4 separate regions of the Homo sapiens genome follow, and all the other regions are linked to region 3. The links come from fine-mapping of genetic effects on gene expression. A gene starts in region 3. Each other region holds a variant in brackets. All regions are shown on one strand. Distances are from middle to middle. Region 1 overlaps KCNA6-AS1 (KCNA6 antisense RNA 1). Region 2 overlaps KCNA6-AS1 (KCNA6 antisense RNA 1). Region 3 holds the start of GALNT8 (polypeptide N-acetylgalactosaminyltransferase 8). Region 4 overlaps NDUFA9 (NADH:ubiquinone oxidoreductase subunit A9).

Region 1 (5,272 bases), 98 kb after region 3:
CACTAGGACAACCTGAGGGGCCCCCATGGGGTTGAAGGTTGTGCTATTACAATTGGCCCCAGATAAGTTTTGGGGGATAATAGAAATGCTGTGAAGCAGGATTGTGGTAATAATCATACAACTCTAAAAATCGCACCCCAAAATCATTGAATTGTGAAAAAAAAGAAAGCAACGAGTCTAATAATCTGGGAGTTTTCCATCTGGGCTGGGAGAACGGTTTGGTCCTATAAATCTAGAAGCTTAGCATGTCTAAAAATGGACCAGACAATATCTAGAATAGAATGACAGTTTTTTTCTTCTGCCACATGGGGACACTTTAGAGCTTATATGCAGTCGATCGTTGCTATTCATGCACAATACCACGAACTGGTGTGTGTGTGTGTGTGTGTGTGTGTGTGTGTGTGTGTGTGTGTGTGTCTGTGTGTGCTTCGTTTTGACATCAAATTGTTATGAGAGTTACATGCTTTTCTCTTTTTTCTTTTTTTCCTCTAAAGATATGTCATGCCATTTTTTGGGTAAGTGCAGGGCATAATTAGCATGCACTGAACTATGATATATATGTTGAACATTATTCATTATACAGGACTACGGTCTTGAGCTTGCCCAGGGAACTTACACTTTGCTGGCAAAAAGAAAAAAACTCCAAGAAAAGTTCCCACAAACTAAAAACCCCACCAAATCCCTGCACCTGTAAACTCAGAATTCCTTAAGAGATTGCATAGGGCCCAAGGTTTTATGTATTTATCTACTATGGTTATTATTTTATTTTTGAATTTTTTGAAATTTTTTTTGTGGGTACATAAAGGTTTTATTTTCCCTGGCCCCCTACCTACAGTCCCTCTACAGTCGTTATTGATGCTTAACAGCCCTATGAAGAGGTCCCAGCAGTCTTTGGTGCTTCCGGTAAACAAAAGAAGTGGACGGTAACGGCCTTCATTTGTCTTACTGAGCCTTTCAATGATTCTCTCCCAGACTCTGATCCCCTCTTGGCCTGCTTTGCCTTGTGCCCACTGGACCCTCCCTTCCCTCTCCTTGGTGCTTTCCTCAGATGCACCAGCCAGTCCTGTGGCTTGTCATTTCTCCTCTCCGCTGGCTGAGCCCTTGCTTGCAGCAGCATTTCTATCTGCCTGCAACTCAACATACATTCCAAGATAGATTCCCAGAGAGCGTGGTCCTTCCAGGACAATCTGGCTGGAGCTGCCATCCTGGCTCACATGGGTTTTGACTGTGTGTTATTGCCATGGGAAGGAAGTGGGGAGGAAAGTGTCCTCCAATCCTACCTTGTCACAGTCACTTAGGGGAGGAAAAGAATTCCATTTACTAGGTGGTAGGAGTTCCTCTCTCCATCCCGCTTCATATTTTGCCTTGGGTTGCACAGATAGCTCATGGCAGAACAGGGTCTGGAGCTTGGCAGTTGGCAGGGAGAGGGATCTTCCCAGACATAGGCCGCGGGGAAGAAAGACAGATGGGCTTTTAGCCTCTCATCTTGCCAGGTCTCCTGATGAACCACTTTCCTGTGCTGGCCTTGAGTGAGTCTCTGTGGGGTTGGGAATGGTCATGTTTTTCATGTCCCTTTGTTCTGAACTTGAGAAAATAGTTCACCCTGCCTCTTGGTCTTCTTGGTCCTCATCCCCTGGCTTCACCTGGTACCCTAAAGGGGGAGTGGAAATCTATCAGCCACTGCCTTTGAAGGGTTATCAAAGCAGCTGCTGTGTTTGAAGGTGCACATTAACAATAGGAGAGGGACTCCCTCATTTTCAGAACAAAAGAGGAAAGGTTCCTACCCTACAGGAAGTATCATTCGCACTGGTCTAACCTTGGCTATCACTTGACCTGTTTGGGGACTAGTCCTGATGGGATTTATTACAATTTTTTTTTTAATCCAACTCCAACCTCATCATTGTTACTCTAAAGAGAATTCCTCACTCCTCGGTCACGAGCCTCAGCAGATACACTTTACCTCCTCCTGGAAAACATTTTGGAATCTTAAGCAGCTTCTGCTGCAGGCTGCAAGGAGCGCAGACAGACCCTGGCTCTTTGGTGAGAGCAAAGGCGACATTTCAAAAGGAAATTGCAGCCACGCAGTCTGCTGGCGCTGCTATTTTTGACATGCTTGCTGTTCTCTCAGGGCTTGACAACCGCTGTCTCCAGGAGACAGACAAACCTGCTCTTGGCAGCAGAGACACTGCTTTGAAAAAGAACATAGGAAGACAGTCCTGCAGCTGGGAGGGGCGGGGAGGACTTGCCACTGGAAGCGTGGCACCTGGCTAGTGGGGCTGCAGATCTGAGGTTGCAGGATTTATCCTCACCTAGGGAATCCTGACCTTGCGTTGCATCCTTCCCACTGGGAATAGTCCTAGCAAGAATAAGAATGGTGCTATTCATTTACAGAACATTGTCAAACACGTTCAGTGCTTTCAGACATCGTGCGATTTAACAAAGGGTTTAAGAGCATAGTTGCTGGAGCCTGATCGTCGCGGCTCAAATCCCTCCTTTGCTGGGTAACATGGGGCAAGTTATGAAACAGTTCTGTGGCCTCAGTTTCTTTCTCTGTCAAATGGAGGATAATAATAGTACCAATCTGATAGGGTTGTTTTGAGGATTAAATGAATTAATGTATGTACAGTGTTTAAATGTACAATGTCAGCTGTTATTATCATCCTGCAGCAGTGAAATGAAGTAGGTAGGCTAGGCTTTGTTTTTTTCTTTGGCAGATAAGAAAACTGAAGCTCAGAGGGGTTGTGATGTCTTTAAAGGCACACAGTAATGTGTGTTTCATCCTCTTCAGGGGAGATGGAACAGAATGGAATGCAGTGAGGGTCTAACTGTTATTGGGCAAGAAGAATGAAGCCATAGCTCCTAAATGTGTTTATAGACTTCTGTTTACATGCCAGCTTGTCTCTGATGGAGCAGCAGCAGGTGTCCTGTGCTTTTGTTCCCTATGGGTCCCTGAAAGT[GCA/G]CACACACACACACACACACACACATATGCATATACACACATACGTATATACACACATAAATATATATACATACATACACATACATACATACACAAAAACACACACATACACATATATACACATATGCACACACAAAACCACATATACACACACGTATATATACAGAAACATGAATATACATATGCACATGTATACACACGTATATGCACACACAAACATATACACACGTATGCACAGGCACATACATGCATGCTTATACATATACCCACGTATATACACAAACACATATGGTGCTATATATTCTATATGTGTGTAGCATATATACGTGGAACATCTTTCTATGGATCCCTTTCTCAGTACTGCCACTGATCTCCCTCTCCCATTTTAACATTCTCAGTGGTTGACACTGCATTCGAGTTTTCCTCACACACCTGCTCCTGCCTTCTTCCTTGGGAAGAATGCAGGGTCTTATAGTTAGCAGAAGGGACAGAACCCACAAGCCAGCCCCTGGCCCAGAGTTTTCCTACCCTGTTCCAGTGGCTTTCAAACTTCCACTGTCCTGGTCCTCACCGTCAGCATGCATTCTTTTCCCCAGTCACCTTCACGGCCCCCTTTGCAGGTGGGGGTACCCCTTAATCTCCCGTGGCTGTGTTTCTGCTTTCCTGTCCTTCTTTGAGGTGGAGGAGACAGGAGGCCTCGTAGTTGGAAGAAGCCAGCTCCCCTGCCCTTGTGGGTCTCCCCTGGCCTTCACTCCACCTAAAGAGCATTTATGACATCTCTTGTTAGGGGTCTTGGCACGGGCCAGATTGCTGTCTTCACCCTCAGCTCACTGCCACAGCCACTACGGCTTCTTAACAAAGGTCCTATCCCAGGGCAAGGTGACGTGGCTGCCCTCATGGTTGAGGATTCTGAGCTTGCTGGCTTGCCTGCCATGGGAGTTGGAGAATTGGTCTGAATCACTGTTTATTAGCTGTACCTCATTTAACCTCACCGAGCTTCAGTTTCGTCATCTGCAAAATAAGGAAGCTAACATCACTTGCCTTACACAGTTGCTGTGAGATTCAGAAGAGGCAGCCAGTGAAAGAGTTTAGCAGGAAATAAACTCTTAGCAAAGCATGGCTCTTCCCACTGCCAATCAGCAGAGAGACCCTTAGAGACACCAAACACCCATCCGAGAGTGGGGCCGAAACTACCTGCACGTCAGAGAAAGGCAGGGTCCCTGCCAACTGCAGTTTTGTTCTCTGAAATAAACATTTAAATGAAATATGACATAAAAAATAGACTCAGGATAGCTAGCTATTTTTACCAGAAGGCTCTTTGCCCAGAGGATTCACAGCAGAATTTCTTTAAATAATTGCCCTTACGGTGTGATTTAATATACAGAAATATAATCTGAATATATCTTGGAAGAATAGGATGGATATACTGGTAATATGTATATATTTTAACAAAGTTTGTTTCCAGCCAAACTAGAATGAGAATTCTCACTTAACCCTTCCCTCAGGCCCTGGAGCATTGCAGAGGGTCACAGATGGAGGGGGCAGTGAATGCCTCTTTAGGAAGAAGGAGACTGATGCAGAGAAGTGAAATAATTTGCCGAAGATCACACAGGAAATTAGGGGCAGAGTTGTGCCTGGGACCCAAATTTTCTAACTCCAACTCCAGCATATTTTCCCATGGGAAATGGAACTGTAAGGATTACCTAAACACACACACACACACACACACACACACACACACACACACACACACTCTTAAAAATAACTCTTCATTTTCTACCCAACCAAACTCCTTAGCAGAGCTGCCCATAGAAAATGGAATTAAGTGATTTTAACTTTTATCTTTCCCTCCCCTGAGTTTCCAGGGCACAGAGGCAGTGAGCCTAGCTAGAGAAGCCCAGAACCAGATGACCAGCTTCTGGATTTTTAAGGGAGGACTAATGACTGAGGGCTAGTGCAGACCAAAGGTATTTAGCACTGGACAAAGAGAGGCTCATGTACAGGCTCTGGGCTTCTAATCTCACTGATTAAGGGATTCTTTAACCTCTTAAGGCTTTATTTTTTCTGTTAAATTTAGTGACTGGACAGAAGGAAACTGTCATAGATTGGAAATCAGGAAGTCAAGGGGTTATCTGAGTCTTCTGAATTTTATAGCGGAAAGAAGGGATGCAGAAGGCCAGCATCTTACCCAGGAACGCTGACTTCTGATGCCTTGGGAGGCAGAAACCAGTTTCTAGACTCTTCCCTGCACTTTGTTGCCCCGATAGAGAAAGAGAAGTGACTGTCAGTTACAGAGATCTTTTACAAATCACA
Region 2 (5,272 bases), 83 kb after region 3:
AATCCTGTGAAACACAATTCGACCCTCACTTAGCTGCCTGGGAGTAGATCCCAGCCCACCGTTCTCTGCTTATGGATTGTCCCTCTGGAGGGTCTTCTTTCTGTTGCCCTCCTTGCTCCTATCAGAGATGGGAATTGCAGATGATATTGAGCAGCTTTCTTGGCCGGCTTCTTGTCCATGATAATTTAGGGGCCCAACGGTACATTACATTTTGAAAAGTCGTGAATGGTTTCGTTCAGGTCATGGTTCCTTTGGCAGGATGACTGTCTGAAAATCTTCTTAGGCTTTTTCCTATGTGTTTCGGGCAGATCTATGTACTGATAGCCAATAACCACACCTATGGTTACAGTTGTTATCCTATTCTAAAGGAGCCATTGTATGTCGTGCTATGGGATAGAGGCAGATAATTTGTCTTTTGGGTTTTTAAGTCTCTGAATTGCAGAAATCCATATTCAAAACTGATGTAGAGACTAGCACATGTCACTCCTTAATATAAAAACTACTACGCACTGCTAGAGAACCTAGCATTTCAGCTTGATACCAGGACTGGGTAGGACTTTGGGGTTATCTTCCTTAGGGAGTAGGTAAGTGTATTTTGCCTGGGGGAGCCATGGTTCTTCTCAACTTGAACCTAACAGCAATAATTTGGGTATATATATTATTTGTGGGATGTTACAGCTTTAGTCTTGTTTTTTCTCTCGCTCTTACTTGAGCCAGTTTGCCCAGTTTGAATGATTTTTTGAAGCCATAACTTCAATTAAACTTTTGCCCTAAATGACTTATTCCATTCAGAGGAACTGACAATGGACATGACTGCCCTGTGCTTGATTTGTTCCATGGCATGAGCTGAAGCACTCATCAGTCTTTCTTGTATAAAGGTCTTTTAAGTTTTGTTTACTTCTTTGGGGAATGAGAAGCAGCTGTCTCTGTCTACACTGAAAATCCCCACATTTCTGGACTCTCTCCTGTCCATTTCATCTCTGCTTTCTGGCCAAATCTTTTCTGAACTCATCAATATCTTGCACTACATTGTCAGATGCAGCCAGCAGTGGCCACCATACAATATAACAAGCTGTTTTTCAACCATCTTCCTAGATATGCAGGATTTTAGGGATATAATCTGCTTTCTAAGTTATCACAGATGACAGTTTTCAGAATATTTTTCCATTTGTAACATGGATTGCCTGCAATGGCCTCCTATAAAATTTCTTCAATACCTGTCATCTGGCCACAGAACCAATGTCACAAGTATTTTTTTAATTTTTAAAATTTTATTTATTTATTTTTTTGAGACGGAGTCTCACTCTGTTGCCAGGCTGGAGTGCCGTGGTGCAATCTCAGCTCACTGCAACCTCCGCCTCCCAGGTTCAAGCGATTCTCCTGCCTTAGCCTCCTGTGTAGCTGGGACAACAAGTGTGTACCACCACACCCAGCTAATTTTTGTATTTTTAGAAATTGGGTTTCACCATGTTGGCTGGGATAGTCTCGATCTCTTGACCTTGTGATCTGCCCACCACGGCCTCCCAAAGTGCTGGGATTACAGGTGTGAGCCACCATGCCTGGCCATGTCACAGGTTTTAACTTTTTACTTTTGGCAGCTTCTTACTTCAGTTTGGGTAGACTTGATTCTGCTATGGGAAGAAATCAATCCCTGAATACCAGAGGATTAGAGCAATAAGGGTTTGTTTCTCACTTATGCTACTATTGCTTCGGCTGGGGGCCAAGCTTCCTGCCACCTTACCCTGTAATGCAGCTCACTCTGACAGAGCAGCCACCATCTTGAACAAAGCTGGTCATTGTGGCTGGCGTGAAGAAAGCTCTGGGGGCTTTCCCATGAGGAATTAAATATTTTGGTTCAGAAGTGACACATACCACTTCTGCTTATAACTCACTGTCCAGAACTACTTGCCTGGTACCACACAGCCACAAGTGAGTGAGACAGTAAAATTCTCCATGTTCCTGAAAAGTAGAGAGCTGGAGACATTTGGAAAACAGCATTAATGACTATCACAGGAGGAGAATTGGATGAAGATGTAGGCTGCAAACTTAGGATACTAACAAGCTCTCTTGGGATCCTCCCCGAAAGGATAAGGAGTTCGTTATAGATTTATTTCTTGGCATGGATAGTAATTTCCTGAGGCTGTTGATTGGTGTGGCACAGATGTCTAATGCATTTCTTTTCTAATATACAGCTTCACCCAAGCGAAAGCTGTTAGATTTTTCTCTACTGAATTATGGAACATCATCATCACCATCACTACTTTGTAACTGACATCATCGTCCTCATTAAAAATTGGACTAAGCAGCTAATTATAAATAGTGCTTTTGTATAGCACATGTGTTTTCATTTGTCCCCCTGACTCCATCCACTTGGCCACAGGGGAAGCCCAGGAGGAGGGAAATGGCCACAGTGCATCCAGAGACGAAATGAATAGAAGGGAACTTCAGGTCAAAGCGTTGTGCTATCAAGTGTTGGCAGGGAACATCAATGAGTTTGTGGAACCAGTGGGTGCTACTGCAGGAAATTAACCCTCGAAGTTCAAGATATCTGACTTCTTTTTAATGTAACTCTCAGATGACCAAATTTTT[G/GGTGTGTGTGT]GTGTGTGTGTGTGTGTGTGTGTGTGTGTGTGTAGAAGGAGGGGAACAAAAGGAAAACAGCAAAAATTGACTGCAAAGTATAGAATTACCCGGTCATCCATTTTTCTCCCCTTCTTCCCCAGGATTCAATGCTGTCTTCTCTCTCCAGCAGAAAAAGTAGGAGAAGGTTAAGAGAAGGAGTAAACATGACCCAGACCCTGGGGAAAGGGGTGAATGAGGGGACCAGAGAAGGGAGTTGGGCCAGGCAGAACGCTGTGTTTGGACAGAGGAGCTTCCACTTGGAACACGCTGAAGAACCAAAGCTCGAGGGCAGAGCCTTGCCCAGAGTGAGATGGTGAGAGGAGGGACACGGGCTCAGACTCATCACCCCTGCTTCTCACTGGCTCTGAGTGGTTTGGATTCCACAGTGGAAAGCTCAAGAGTGGGGTGGGTCATTCTAGGGAGGGTGTTCCGTGCTTGTGCACAAGTGTTGTGTTCTCTCAGTAAGAGGTAAGGGAGCTGACGACTCGCCACCCTGTCCTCAGAGCAGGGGCCTGTGGGTGACAGGACCATGAGGAGAACCATTTTCAGAGGTTACACAGAGAAAGAGGAAAACTTCAGGGATCGTATTACCAGAATGATGACAAGTGCACACACACACACACACACACACAGCAAAATAAAAATGTAAAGAAGCCTGGAAGACAGATCATTTATGTCATTTATATACCTGGAATAGGTACATTTTAGAACCTAGGGCAGAGGTCAGAATATAAATGGTTATCACACAATGCTTCACATTATCTGTGCTCATCTTGTGGGCACATACGTCCATTCTTAGGTGGTTCTTCCCATGGATGCCCCCCACGTACTCCTGACCTGTTGCAGATCATGTGTTCCACTGGAAGGCCAGCGTGGGCCCAGGAGGATGGGGCCCCTGGGGTCTAGTCCTGGTTGTTGGTTTCCAGGAGCTCTCCATCTCTTGGCTTTCCTTTGACTTCACCTACAACCCCTCAGCCTCCTATGCTGGCTGCCCTTCCTCCTGACCTTGACCGGTAGATTGAAGACTGCTGTGAAGGACTTGGTCCTGGTCATTTCTCCTCGTTGTCCATATTCTGTTTCTGCAGAAGACCTTGGTGCCATGAATGTATATATTTCTAGATGTCTTAAATTCATAAATCGTAAGTTTCTTTTTCATATTCCAGACCTAAATAAATAACTGCCTCCTTGATGTCTTAATTTGCATGTATAATTTCCCTCTCCAATGTAAAACATCTAAAGGTGAGGTCTTGACGCATCCCAACTTGTTTAACCCCTTGTCTTCCCTTTCTCAGTAAAGGGCGACACCTACCTGCCTAGTTGCTTGAGCTTGGCATTGGCTGCTTATTTCTCATGTTTTATTGATGACTAATTCCTGCTGATTCTATCATCTAAACATACCTCCTCAGTTCTCCTCACCTCCTCTCCACTCTATCTCTACTGACTCTACCTTTCTCTGGCCCAAGTCACCATCATCTTTTCCCCAGACGACTGCAATTTCCTGGTCTTTCTATTTCTTCTTCTACCTCTTCATAATTCATTCCCCTCCCAGCCTCTAAGTAAATCACATCACGTCTCTCCTCTGCTTGAAAACCATCATTGGCTTCATACCGCCCTTAAGATAAAACCTGAACACCTCACCCTATAAGATGGTACCCTTGCTAATTCTTCAATCTTATCTTGCACCTCCCTTTCCCTTGCCCATTCTCCTCCCAGCGCACGGCCTTCTTTTTGACCTTGAACACCCATGACCTTTCTAGCTCAGGGCTTTTGCACTTGTCAGTCTGGAATGCTCTTCCCTGCATTTGGCACTGTGGCCCCATTCTCTTATCTATTTTTGAGACAGAATCTCCCTCTGTCACCCAGGCTGGAGTGCAGTGGTACAATCTCGGCTCACTGCAACCTCCACCTCCCAGGTTAAAGCGATCCTCCTGCCTCAACCTCCCAAGTAGCTGGGACTACACGTGCCCTCCACCATGCCCAGATAATTTTTGCATTTTTAGTAGAGACAGAGTTTTGCCATGTTGGTCAGACTGGTCTTGAACTCCTAACCTCAGGTGATCCACCTGCCTCAGCCTCCCAAAGTGCTGGGATTACAGGCATGAGCCACCGTGCCAGGCTCCATTCTCCTCTTTGGATTGTCAGTTGAAATACTACCTCTTCAGAGGGAACTTTTCCAGCTACCCTTGCAAAGTTGAGTCCCCAAGTTCATTTCTGACATGGCATCCCATTTATCCTCCTCAAGGCATTTACTGCAATATGGAATTATTTTCCTTATTGTCTACTGTTAAAATTTTCTGTCTATAATGTAATTTATTACATGAAAATGTATGCTTATCAAAGCAGATATTTTGTATAGATCACTGCTAAATCCTCAGCACCTGGCACCATGCTGGCACTCAGTAGCTGCTCAATATATACTTTTTAAATAAATGAATGATTGCTATGACCATGGCAAACATCTGAATCTGGATACAACAACAAAAAATAACAACAAAATCTGTGCTGGCATGAAATTGGTGCTTGGTGAATGCTGGGGAAAAATCCCCTGCCATTGGAAGCCACTTGGCAGTGTTTATGGATGGAGCTGTGTCTTCCTTCACCTGGGAACTGGCATTTCTGAAGGTGTGATTGTACTCATCCTTAACATACGCTTGGGGGGAAT
Region 3 (5,272 bases):
TGGGGGATGCAGGGGCAAACCCTCACAGCTGGGGTGAGGTTGGAAGTCTAGGCTCCCCACGAGGCCTCTGTGGATGTGGTGGGCATGGCACTGCAAGGTTTTCAGTGGCATTTGGCTGGAGTAGGGCAGTTGTTGTCTAAACATCTTCTGTCTTGCTAGGCTTCCCATTTCCTGTTTCTTTGGTTAGAGAAAGCAGCTTTTTCTTGGGGCTTCTATTGTCTCTGCCCATTGCATTTCCAAGTTGTTGACTGCTCCAGCATCCAGCAACTTGGAATCTATTTCCTACAATAGCTAGGATATCTGGAGATCTCTAGTCAGCCTGCCCTGTTCTCTCTACCTTTCAGAGTCTTCTTAGGTTTGTTTTACATATCATGTGTACTTTTTACTTGCCTTGATGGGAAGGAATAGAGAAGATAAATGTAGGTATTTCTTCTTGTCCCAGAAGCAGAAGGGTTATGCTTTTTTGTTTGTTTGTTTTTTGTAGTTGTTGTTGTTGTTGTTTGAGATGGAGTTTTGTTCTTGTTGCCCAGGCTGGAGTGCAGTGGCGCGATCTCGACTCACTGCAACCTCCGCCTCCTGGGTTCAAGCGATTTTCCTGCCTCTGCCTCCCAAGTCGCTCGGATTACAGGTGCCTGCCACCATGCCCAGCTAATTTTGTTATTTTTAGTAGAGATGGCGTTTCACCATGTTGGCCAGGCTGGTCTTGAACTCCTGACCTCAGGTGATCCACCTGCCTCGGCCTCCCAAAGTGCTGGGATTACAGGCGTGAGCCACTGCGCCTGGCTGGATCATGCGTTTCTTATGTTTTGAGTCTAATTTGCAAGTGGGAGGCTGGGAGACATTTTCTATCCCTGCGAAACAGAAGAAGTGATTCCTTTTCATTTTGTTCATTTTCATCCTGTTTTTCCTAAAGCCACATTACTTTCCTTTAATCCACATGTCCGCCTCAGCACATGTCACCATGTGCTGTGTTTGGGACGTAGTAAATAGTCCAAAGAGCCAGGCCGGGGTGGAAGCTGTGATTTTGACGGGATTGACAGTAGACTGAGAACTTTGAACTTTTAGCCTTGGGGAACAATTTTATGTGTTTATTCTACAATGATGATCACTGGTGATTTGTCCAAAACATATTATAAGTGTGAGGTGTGGAGGCAAAGGAGTTACTGGAAGCTGGGGCAGGGCAGAAGCCCAGTGTATGAAGTTGTGCAGAGGACAAGCAAAGGACAGAGACCAGTGAATCGGAGTCATCCCCTGAGGCTCAACCCCGGGCACCGCCTCCAGCTCTTCTCCACCTGCTTCTAGGCAGTGAAGTCCTAGGAACTAGCAAGAAAGTCTGTCCTTAAGTTTGTGGGACAAGCATTTGTTGCACACCTACTATGTCCAAAACCCTGTAGAGTTAGGTAAAAAGACATCTTAGATCCCAGCTCTCCAAAAAAGCAAGGATCTAAGTGTACAGAGACTTCTTGCTTCGTGATTTCTTCTTCATCCTATTTATCCCCTTCTTATACCCACAGGACCAGACCTCACATGCCCTATCAGAGTCTCCCAGGTGGTTTTTCCAGGGAGAGAGAACATTAAACATCAAACAAACATATATAGAGAAAAGCCTCTCACCCAGGCAGCCTGAGCTAGCTGCAGGAGCAAGCATTCTTCTGACTTCTGAGACAGTACAAGGTGTGTCCAGGTGACTTACCTGTCACTGGGCAGCTGCCATGCGCACTCCTCACACCTGACGCTGCTCAGGGAGAAGCCAGGCAGCTATAATAGTGTTCTTGGCCGGAGAACATCTGGCCTAGCAGGCAGGGTGTCATCTATGAAGCTGGGTGGAGAGAAAGCTGTTGGGGAAACCAGCCCCACACCACCCAGCGGATACCCCGAGTCCGGCGGAGACAAAGGAGTTAGAAAGAGACAGAACAAGCGTTTAAAAGGCAGGTCCAGGGGACCAGAGCGTTGGAGGCTTGCTCACGGCCCAGAGCTCTGGGCTCCACCCAATTTATTGGTTTACAAGCTCTTTGTTCTTAGGGCAGATGGGAAGGGGAGGAAGGGATGAGGAAAAGGATTAATCAGTGAGTCATTCGATAAGATGTGTAACAGTGGCGGTTTCTGTGAATTTCCTTGAGCAAAGGCGTGTGTCTAAACTACTTAAGATCTTTAATGACTGAAATGGGTGGGAGTGGGTTTCAGGAGGAGCCAAGATGTTTGATTATACTCCTCTGCTTCAAGGGAGTGTTATCTCCCTGAGCAACCTGTGGAAAGCCGCTGAGCAACCTGTGGAAAGCCGCTGAGCGGTTATCCTCTCGGGGCATAAAGACAAAGAAGGCAATAAGGAGACTTTGCTCCTCAGAGGCCACCCGTGGCTTCCCATGGGTGTCTCACACAGGGGAGACCAACTCAACTGGCACCTAGAACTCTCTTTCCCACAAAAGCTAGGCTGGTTCTGATTCTTAACCTGCTCCAGCAGTGACACACTCAGTCCCACAGGGAGTGGACGACCCCCAGGAAGAAGATGATGTTTTGGAGGAAACTCCCCAAAGCCCTCTTCATTGGGCTGACTCTGGCCATTGCTGTCAATCTCCTTCTGGTATTTTCTAGCAAGGGGACTTTACAAAACCTGTTTACGGGTGGTCTCCACAGGGAGCTTCCTTTACATCTGAATAAACGCTACGGGGCAGTGATAAAGAGACTCTCCCACTTGGAGGTGGAATTGCAGGATCTGAGTAAGTTTACAATGCTAACCTGGAAGGTGTGTGTGTGGGTGTGTGTGTTTGGGGCACTTAGGAAAAAGGGATATGGAAGGAAAAATGGGTGAGAGGTCACATTTTCATCTCAGTCGCTCATTGAAGCATCTGACACTGAATTCTGTGCCTTCAAATGGGAGATGGGTATTGAGAATGAAGTGAGTAGAAGTGGAAATTAGAGCAAGCAGTATGGGGGAGGTGAGCATGTGTGTGTGTATGCGTGTGTGGGCTTGTGCACATGCATTATCATTATATCTACATATGTGCAGGCAACGAGAAGAATAAGAATCCCAAGGGCCATAGACCTGTCCTTAGGCCTATTGAAGGGGTGGGTTGCACCTCCACACCTGTGGGTGTTTCTCGTTAGGTGGAACGAGAGACTTTGGAAGAGAAAAAGACACAGAAACAAAGTATGTAGAGAGAAATAAGGGGGCCCAGGGGACCAGCGTTCAGCATACGGAGGATCCCGCCAGCCTCTGAGTTCCCTTAGTATTTATTGATCATTCTTGGGTGTTTCTCGGAGAGGGGGATGTGTCAGGGTCATAGGATAATAGTGGAGAGAAGGTCAGCAGATAAACACGTGAACAAAGGTCTCTGCATCATAGACAAGGTAAAGAATTAAGTGCTGTGCTTTAGATATGCATACACATAAACATCTCAATGCCTTAAACAGCAGTATTGCTGCCCGCATGTCCCACCTCCAGCCCTAAGGCGGTTTTCTCCTATCTCAGTAGATGGAATATACAATCGGGTTTTACACCGAGACATTCCATTGCCCAGGGACGGGCAGGAGACAGATGCCTTCCTCTTGTCTCAACTGCAGAAAGGCGTTCCTTCCTCTTTTACTAATCCTCCTCAGCACAGACCCTTTACGGGTGTCGGGCTGGGGGACAGTCAGGTCTTTCCCTTCCCACGAGGCCATATTTCAGATGGTCACATGGGGAGAAACCTTGGACAATACCTGGCTTTCCTAGGCAGAGGTCCCTGTGGCCTTCCGCAGTGTTTTGTGTCCCTGGGTACTTGAGATTAGGGAGTGGTGATGACTCTTAACGAGCATGCTGCCTTCAAGCATCTGTTTAACAAAGCACATCTTGCATAGCCCTTAATCCATTTAACCCTGAGTCGACACAGCACATGTTTCAGGGAGCACGGGGTTGGGGGTACGGTTACAGATTAACAGCATCTCAAGGCAGAAGAATTTTTCTTAGTACAGAACAAAATGGAGTCTCCTATGTCTAGTTCTTTCTACACAGACACAGTAACAATCTGATCTCTCTTTCCTTTCCCCACGCCTATGTGTGGTAGGGGCTGTTGAAGAGAGGTGGCAATCTCTGGGGCAAGGGCCTCGCTTCCATTTTGCGGTGTGCTCCTTTCATGAACTAATGAGGGCTTTGTTAGAGGACCTAAGATCGAATCCTGATGTGCCATTGTGGTTGTGTGACTTTGAGCAAGTGCTTCTCTCTCTCAGCCTCAGGTTCCTGGTCTGTAAATGGAGATGATGATAACAATAGTGATAGTTATCAACCTGACCTAATAGGGTTGTGAAGTAGATGCAGAAGGTGATCTATAAACTGCTCTGTGCCAAATTTTAACCTCCTCATTTAAACTTAAGGGTAAGATTTCAACACATTCTGGGGTTTGTTTGTGATTCCGGCTCACCATGGAAGTCTAATGCCTCTGAATTTTATGTGCCTGTGCATCCAACTTCAGCAAGGGAAGCAGCAATTTCCCCCTGCTCCCAGGTAACAGGGATCAAATGCTGGAACCCCATAGGGAGGTGTTTTATGTGTGGGCAGGGATGTGACTGCCCAGGTGTGTGCACATGGGGCTGGAGTTGGGGAAAGTGTCTTTTAAAATGAGAACTGAGCATTGTCAGGGTTCAGGGTGAGGCTGGGAGATGGGTGGAAGGAAAGGCAGGAAGAGAAAAAGGAAGGGAGAGAAGAAATCAGGGAAAGAGCGAGGAGAGTGAGAAGGGAGATGAGAGAGGAGAAAAGAGCTGGGACAGGAAAGGAGCAGAGAAGTGAGGGAGTCCAGGGAGAGAGAGTGAAAGAGTTTGTATGGAGACAAGAAGAAAAGAAGGGAAAGTGTGATGGGAGAGAAGGAGAGAATAAAAGGAGAGAGGAGGAGTCCTAAGGCACCCATAGCACCTTCCACGTCCTCCTTCATAAGACTCATCATATTTTATTATGGTACAGTTTTATGGAAAGCAAGTTTCATAAGTGCTGTTTCCATGAACGTCTCATTCACTACTCATTTCTATTCATACATCGAAATTCCATAGATGAATAAATGAGTGGGTGTGTCTAGGAAAGAGAGAGAAAAAGACAGGCAGACAGGGATGAAGGGAAGAGTGATACGGGGCAAGAGAGTGGATGAAACAGAGGGAAGATCATCAGCTCCACAAGCCCTGGCTTACCTGGGTGGGTCGGACATTGCCCATGCAAATATGCTTGGTGCAGCTTCACCAGGAGGATGCCTGTGTACCTAGGGTGGTGACCCCAGCACCACCCTCACTATTTGGCAGAGCACCCAGA
Region 4 (5,272 bases), 37 kb before region 3:
CATTTCAGTATAGGGAAAGAGGCAGTACAGTAAATGATTCTGTAAGTAGCATTGAAGCAATTGGCTTACATCTTGGGAAAAATATAATTACATGTTTACCTTATATAATGTACAAAAATACGTCACAGAAGGAACTTTATAGTAAAAAAAAAATCTTTTTTATAAGGTTTAGACAAAATATGTAGAAATTTATGTCACTGCAGAGGAATTTTCTAACTATGAATCCAAGCCATAAAGAAAATCAGTAGTTTTGGTTAAATTAAACAGTTAAAATTTTATGTGCACAAAACACTGTAAATAACACTAAAAGTTAAAATACAAACAATAAAAGGTATTTCCAACAATATCACTAAAATATAGAGAATTCTTACAAATTATTTTTATAGACAGGGACTCCAGGAGGAAAGAAAAGATAGATGTATAAATGACCAAAAATTCGTGAAGAAATGATCTCTCATATTAAAGACATAATAATTAAAACATGAGATACCTTTTTTTTTTTAACCTAGCAGATTGGCAAAAATTTTATTTTCTTATGACAACTCATTTCGGGTGGAGGGGGCATTCTTATATATAATTACATATATATAATTATAATTTATATAATTATCTAAAATGTTATATACTTAACATTTTATATAAATTGATAGAACCATTTTGAAAAGCAGTTTAGAAGTATTCAATAAAAGCCTTAAAATTTTAAAGTCTACATTGACCCAGTTCCACTTCTACAAATATATTCTAAATGCGTAATCATGGATAAGTACAAATATTTATTACAAGAATGTTCATTAAAACATTATAAAAGAAAAAAATTTTAATAGCATAAATATCTCAAAACTGGCAATTGATAAAATAATTGTGATTACATGCAGTGTAATATGTTGTCATGAAACATGCAATAAAATAATGATGTGGAAAGACGATTATGATGTAATGTTAAATGAAAAAGACATTACGGAATAGAATGGATTGTGTATTTATTAAAAGCAGAATAATGTATATATGTAAGGGGATGAGAAGGATATAGATCAAATATATTAACTATCTTTCATAATGGGATTATGGGTGATTTTTCTTTGTGCTATTCTGTATCTACTACAGTGCATATATGTTTCCTTTTTTATAAGGAAAATGTTATTTTGTTATAAAGGAAACTTTGTGAGAAGCGTGTAATTGAAAGAACTGTGTATTGTCTTTTTATAGTCCCAGTCGGTACCTCCTTTTCCACCTGGTGAAGTACATCTTTGCTGTGGCTCACAGATTGTTCCTCCCATTCCCCTTGCCGCTTTTTGCCTATCGGTAAGTAGAGTGCTCCTTTTGTGTGACTTCTGAAAAAGCCAGCTCCACACACTTGTTCCTAATGTTCTCCCTTAGGGTTATAGGGTGTGTGAAGGGCTGGTCTCCAGATCTCCTAGTGTTATGACATTAGCATAGAGAAGAAGCAGAAATAGATTAGTGTTGGTTAAAAAAAAATATATTGGAACATTAAATCTTCCCAATTCCCAAAAGTGAATCTTCCCACTTCCCAAAAGTGAAGATGCAGTTCTTCACTTTCTCCAATTTAAAACCATCGAGTTTAATTTTGGAGAAATATCTTGCTAGGCACATATGTAAGGGGCAGTCAGGTTCCCCTGTGTTTCATGTCGCTCATTATTAAATCAACCTGATCATGCTATTGGGGAAAGGAGTCAGGCTAATTCAGACTTGGATTTGTGGTTGCCTTCTCTTCTTTCCCTGCTTCTTAGTTTACTTCTTCTCTTTGTGGGTTAAATATCTTTGACTTGGCTGGGAGTGGTGGCTCATGCCTATAATCCCAGTACTTTGGGAGGCCAAGGAGGGCAGATTGCTTGAGCCCAGGAGTTTGAGACCAGCCTGGGCAATATAGCGAAGCCCCATCTCTACAAAACATACCAAATTAGCTGGATGTGGTGGCATCTGCCTGTAGTCCCACCTACTGGGGTGGAGGTGGGGTGATGCAAGAGAATTGCTTGAGCTTGGGAGTTCAAGGCTTCCAGTGAGCTGAGATTGTGCCACTGCACTCCAGCCTAGGTGACTGCTACTGCGCACAGTGGTGCACACCTATAGTCCCAGCTACTTGGGAGGCTGAGGTGGGAGGATCACTTGAGTTCAGGAGTTTGAATCCAGCCTGGACAACATAGTGAGACCCTGTCTCTGGAACAAAAAAAAAAAAAAGAAAGAAAAGAAAAACCTACTGCCCTGAGGTAACTGTTGATGGGAGCTCCTTTCTCGTCCTAGGTTTTATATTGTCCTGATTTGAACCAAATAAAATAAAATCTTGAACTTACCATGTCACACCCTAGTGG[T/C]CTGGTTAAGGAGACTGTCACATCCATTGTGCCACAAACTGATCTTCATTTGGGTTTTCATCCATTCATTCAACAAATGTTTATTGAATGCCTACTATGTCTTAGATAATGTACTAGGTACTCAGAAGGTTACAACAAACACTCAAAAATCTTATGGTCAGAATGTTACAACAAAAACTCAAAAATCTTATGGTCTAACAGGGGTACCAGAAAAATAGACCACTAGAATGCAGGGTGATAACGATATTTATTGAGTGTTACACCTTTCAGACTATTCACTTTGTCTCCTTTAATACTCAGTTATCTATAAAGTAAGTAAGGAGAGTATGTGGAGTGAGTGGAAGAGGAGGCCACAGAGTAAGAGAAACTTACAAGAAGGCCAAAAAGTGATCAGGCATTTAAGTGGGAAATGAGAGTTTGGAATTCTAGATACCAAAGGGAATGGAGTGTTTTCAGGAGAGAATCGATGTTTTAAGAAGGGGAACATTGCTGTTCATTCACATGTATCTCAAGCCCCTAGAACAATGCCTGGTACACATTAGGCACTCTGTTAATATTGGTAGAATGAAGTCTTACAGAAAAGTCAAATAAGATAAAGGACCAAAAAATGTCTACAAATGACCATTGTGACCGTGGCTTCAGTGCCGTGAAAGGGATATAAGCCAGATTGCAGTGAGGCACTTTCATGGTTGTATATAAAATTGAGTTAGAGTTGGCTTATGTATGCCCATGACATGGCCCACTGAGGACACTAGAATAGAGACCTGAAGTGATCTGTTAGCATAGAATGAGGGCACAGAGAGTTAGAGGTTTGTAATGAGTGTTTTTATTAAGCTATGTTAGCCCAATAAATTATTTTTTTCTGCCGTTGAGGAATCTGAGGCTTTATATGTTGCTGGAGAAATTCCAGCCAGCTTCCTTTTTCATTTATTTATACTATGCATTAGAATGTTGTTTTTCAAGCCTTTAAACGGCTGTGGAACCCTGTGCTCACTGAAGTTTTACGTCAAGTCCTGCTGGGTAAATCCAATAAAAGAGCTGGTCTGGTTGCAGTGATGGGTGATACTCAACGCATGTACTCCCAAACCCTTGGCCCCCCAGGACTCTGTGGGGCCCCAGCAAATTCCTAGTGTTCCTCAGATGCTAGTTGAAAACCCACTGCTACTGGGCACAGTGGTGTACACCTGTAGTCCCAGCTACTTGGGAGGCTGAAGTGGGAGGATCACTTGAGCCTGGGAGTGTGAGTCCGGCCTGGACAACATAGTGAGACCCTGTCTGTGGAACAAAAACAAGGAAAGAAAAGAAAAAGTCACTGCCCTGAGGTAACTGATGATGGGAGCTCAAGTGGCACGTAAGGAGCCCTTCAATTTTCATTAGCAGTGAAGAGATGGCAGTAATGAAGATAGGTGGCCTTTTCCGTTTTGGGTTTTATATTGTCGTCCTGATTTGAACCGTAGATTTTAGCCTTCTCCTTGCTTTTGGATTTTTTTTTTTTTCCTCAAGGGCCCCAGCTTTCAGGGGTTACGTTGTATATTTTACACACCATTCAGCTTGCCCTGCTTCTGTAAAGGCAGCATATTTGAATATCTGAGGTTTAGATTAAATTGAATTTCACAGACTTGATTAAATACTGGAGTTTTTCTGTTTGCTTTGTTGTTTGTTGGTTTTATTTCATTTTAAGTTTAAGATCTGTTGTTTCTTTGGAGGAGAACAAAGTGTACCAGCAGTTACAGCAGCCGACTGGGTTGGCTTGAGAGGAGATGGACCAAAAAGCAGAGGTAGCCTCACAGGTCGAGGTGGTTATTTTCTTAAAAAAAAAAAATCAGTTCAGACTGCTCTACAGCGGTCTGTCTTCCTGCAGTTCTCATAGGCTAGCTTACATCTTGGGCAGAGAGATGCTTATCACATGTGCTATATGTATTTCTCTTTCCAGATGGGTAGCAAGAGTCTTTGAAATAAGCCCATTTGAGCCCTGGATAACAAGGGATAAAGTGGAGCGGGTGAGTACATGTGTGGAAAGCGTCTGCCTGGGCAGATGATGAGGCGTTAGACTTATTTTGCTTTGCCTGCTTGCTTGTTTCCCGGCCCTTGTCTGTTTGCTGTTCTTGCTGTCTGCAGTCAGCCCCTCTACTAGCGCTGAAGCTCATCCACCTGCCCTGCTCCAGGGGGCGGCTCCTCCCTACTTTCTGTCCGTCATTATCAGTGTTTCTTTCTCTGCTTGATCACTCCTGTCAACACACAAAATTGCCTAATAGCTCCCCTGCCAAAGCCTCTCTTCCTCCCATCACTCTTCCAGCTACTTTCCTGTTGTGTCCCTTCACATCCTAACTCCTCCTAACTTCCTCCTAACGTCCTGAAGAAACTGTTGACAGTTTCTTCCTTCTTTCTTTAACCTACTCCAGTCAGGCTTTTATTCCCATTTCTCCCCTAAAATTGCTCTTTTCAAGGTTATCCACAATCTCCAGTCTCCTTGCTGCCACATCCAATGGTCAGTTCTCAGACCTCATGTCATGTGCCTGTGCATTTGCTTCTAGGGAGGATGCAAAATAAAATAAAAATACTATACCAATACCACATCTACCTTGGAAGACCTATGGACCATATATTGGCAAGAAGTAGCCAAATTGTCCCCTGAATGCTGCCTGAAAGCTAAAGTGTAGAGAAGATGAGAAAGTAGTGCTTAGGGAACATGTGGAAGTGGGCAACTCACATACTTTCTTCAGACATGGTCTATGAAAGATCAGGCAGGATCGCTGGTTGTCAGACACTTCAGTTTATCTTACACTAAAGTGTCTCTTACGTTTATACTTGAGAAAGTGTTGATACAGTGGCCTGAGTAGGTTTTGGATTTGGTTTGCAGACTGGCTTACAGCCCTCTGGTAAAAGAATTGCAGACTTTCAGGTGGGTAGGATGAGGGATTGCTGCTGCTCTAGGTGCAAATGGA

The links. PIP is the estimated chance that this variant, and not a neighbour inherited with it, causes the effect.
Region 1: its variant is fine-mapped to the expression of GALNT8 in whole blood (INTERVAL, PIP above 0.99).
Region 2: its variant is fine-mapped to the expression of GALNT8 in whole blood (INTERVAL, PIP above 0.99).
Region 4: its variant is fine-mapped to the expression of GALNT8 in lung (TOPMed, PIP above 0.99).

The regions. Positions count from the first base shown.
Region 1 is chr12:4,815,881-4,821,152 of GRCh38, forward strand. All of the region lies in intron 1 of KCNA6-AS1 (KCNA6 antisense RNA 1), which reads right to left. It also overlaps a transcript of KCNA6 not described here. Among named protein-coding and RNA genes, the nearest start is that of KCNA6, 9.2 kb to the left of the region's middle. The variant GCA/G (reference allele first, on the strand shown) is at 2,958.
Region 2 is chr12:4,801,214-4,806,485 of GRCh38, forward strand. KCNA6-AS1 (KCNA6 antisense RNA 1) reads right to left here. Exons shown (of 3, transcript NR_199077.1): 3 at 3,272-5,272. Among named protein-coding and RNA genes, the nearest start is that of KCNA6, 5.5 kb to the right of the region's middle. The variant G/GGTGTGTGTGT (reference allele first, on the strand shown) is at 2,590.
Region 3 is chr12:4,718,172-4,723,443 of GRCh38, forward strand. It overlaps GALNT8 (polypeptide N-acetylgalactosaminyltransferase 8), which reads left to right and starts at 2,229. Exons shown (of 11, transcript NM_017417.2): 1 at 2,229-2,717. The coding sequence starts at 2,507. GAU1 (GALNT8 antisense upstream 1) reads right to left here and starts at 1,931. Exons shown (of 4, transcript NR_110112.1): 1 at 1,694-1,931. RefSeq lists enhancers at 1,350-2,345, 2,346-3,341, 3,342-4,337.
Region 4 is chr12:4,680,999-4,686,270 of GRCh38, forward strand. NDUFA9 (NADH:ubiquinone oxidoreductase subunit A9) reads left to right here. Exons shown (of 11, transcript NM_005002.5): 9 at 1,207-1,302; 10 at 4,261-4,327. Among named protein-coding and RNA genes, the nearest start is that of NDUFA9, 35 kb to the left of the region's middle. The variant T/C (reference allele first, on the strand shown) is at 2,328.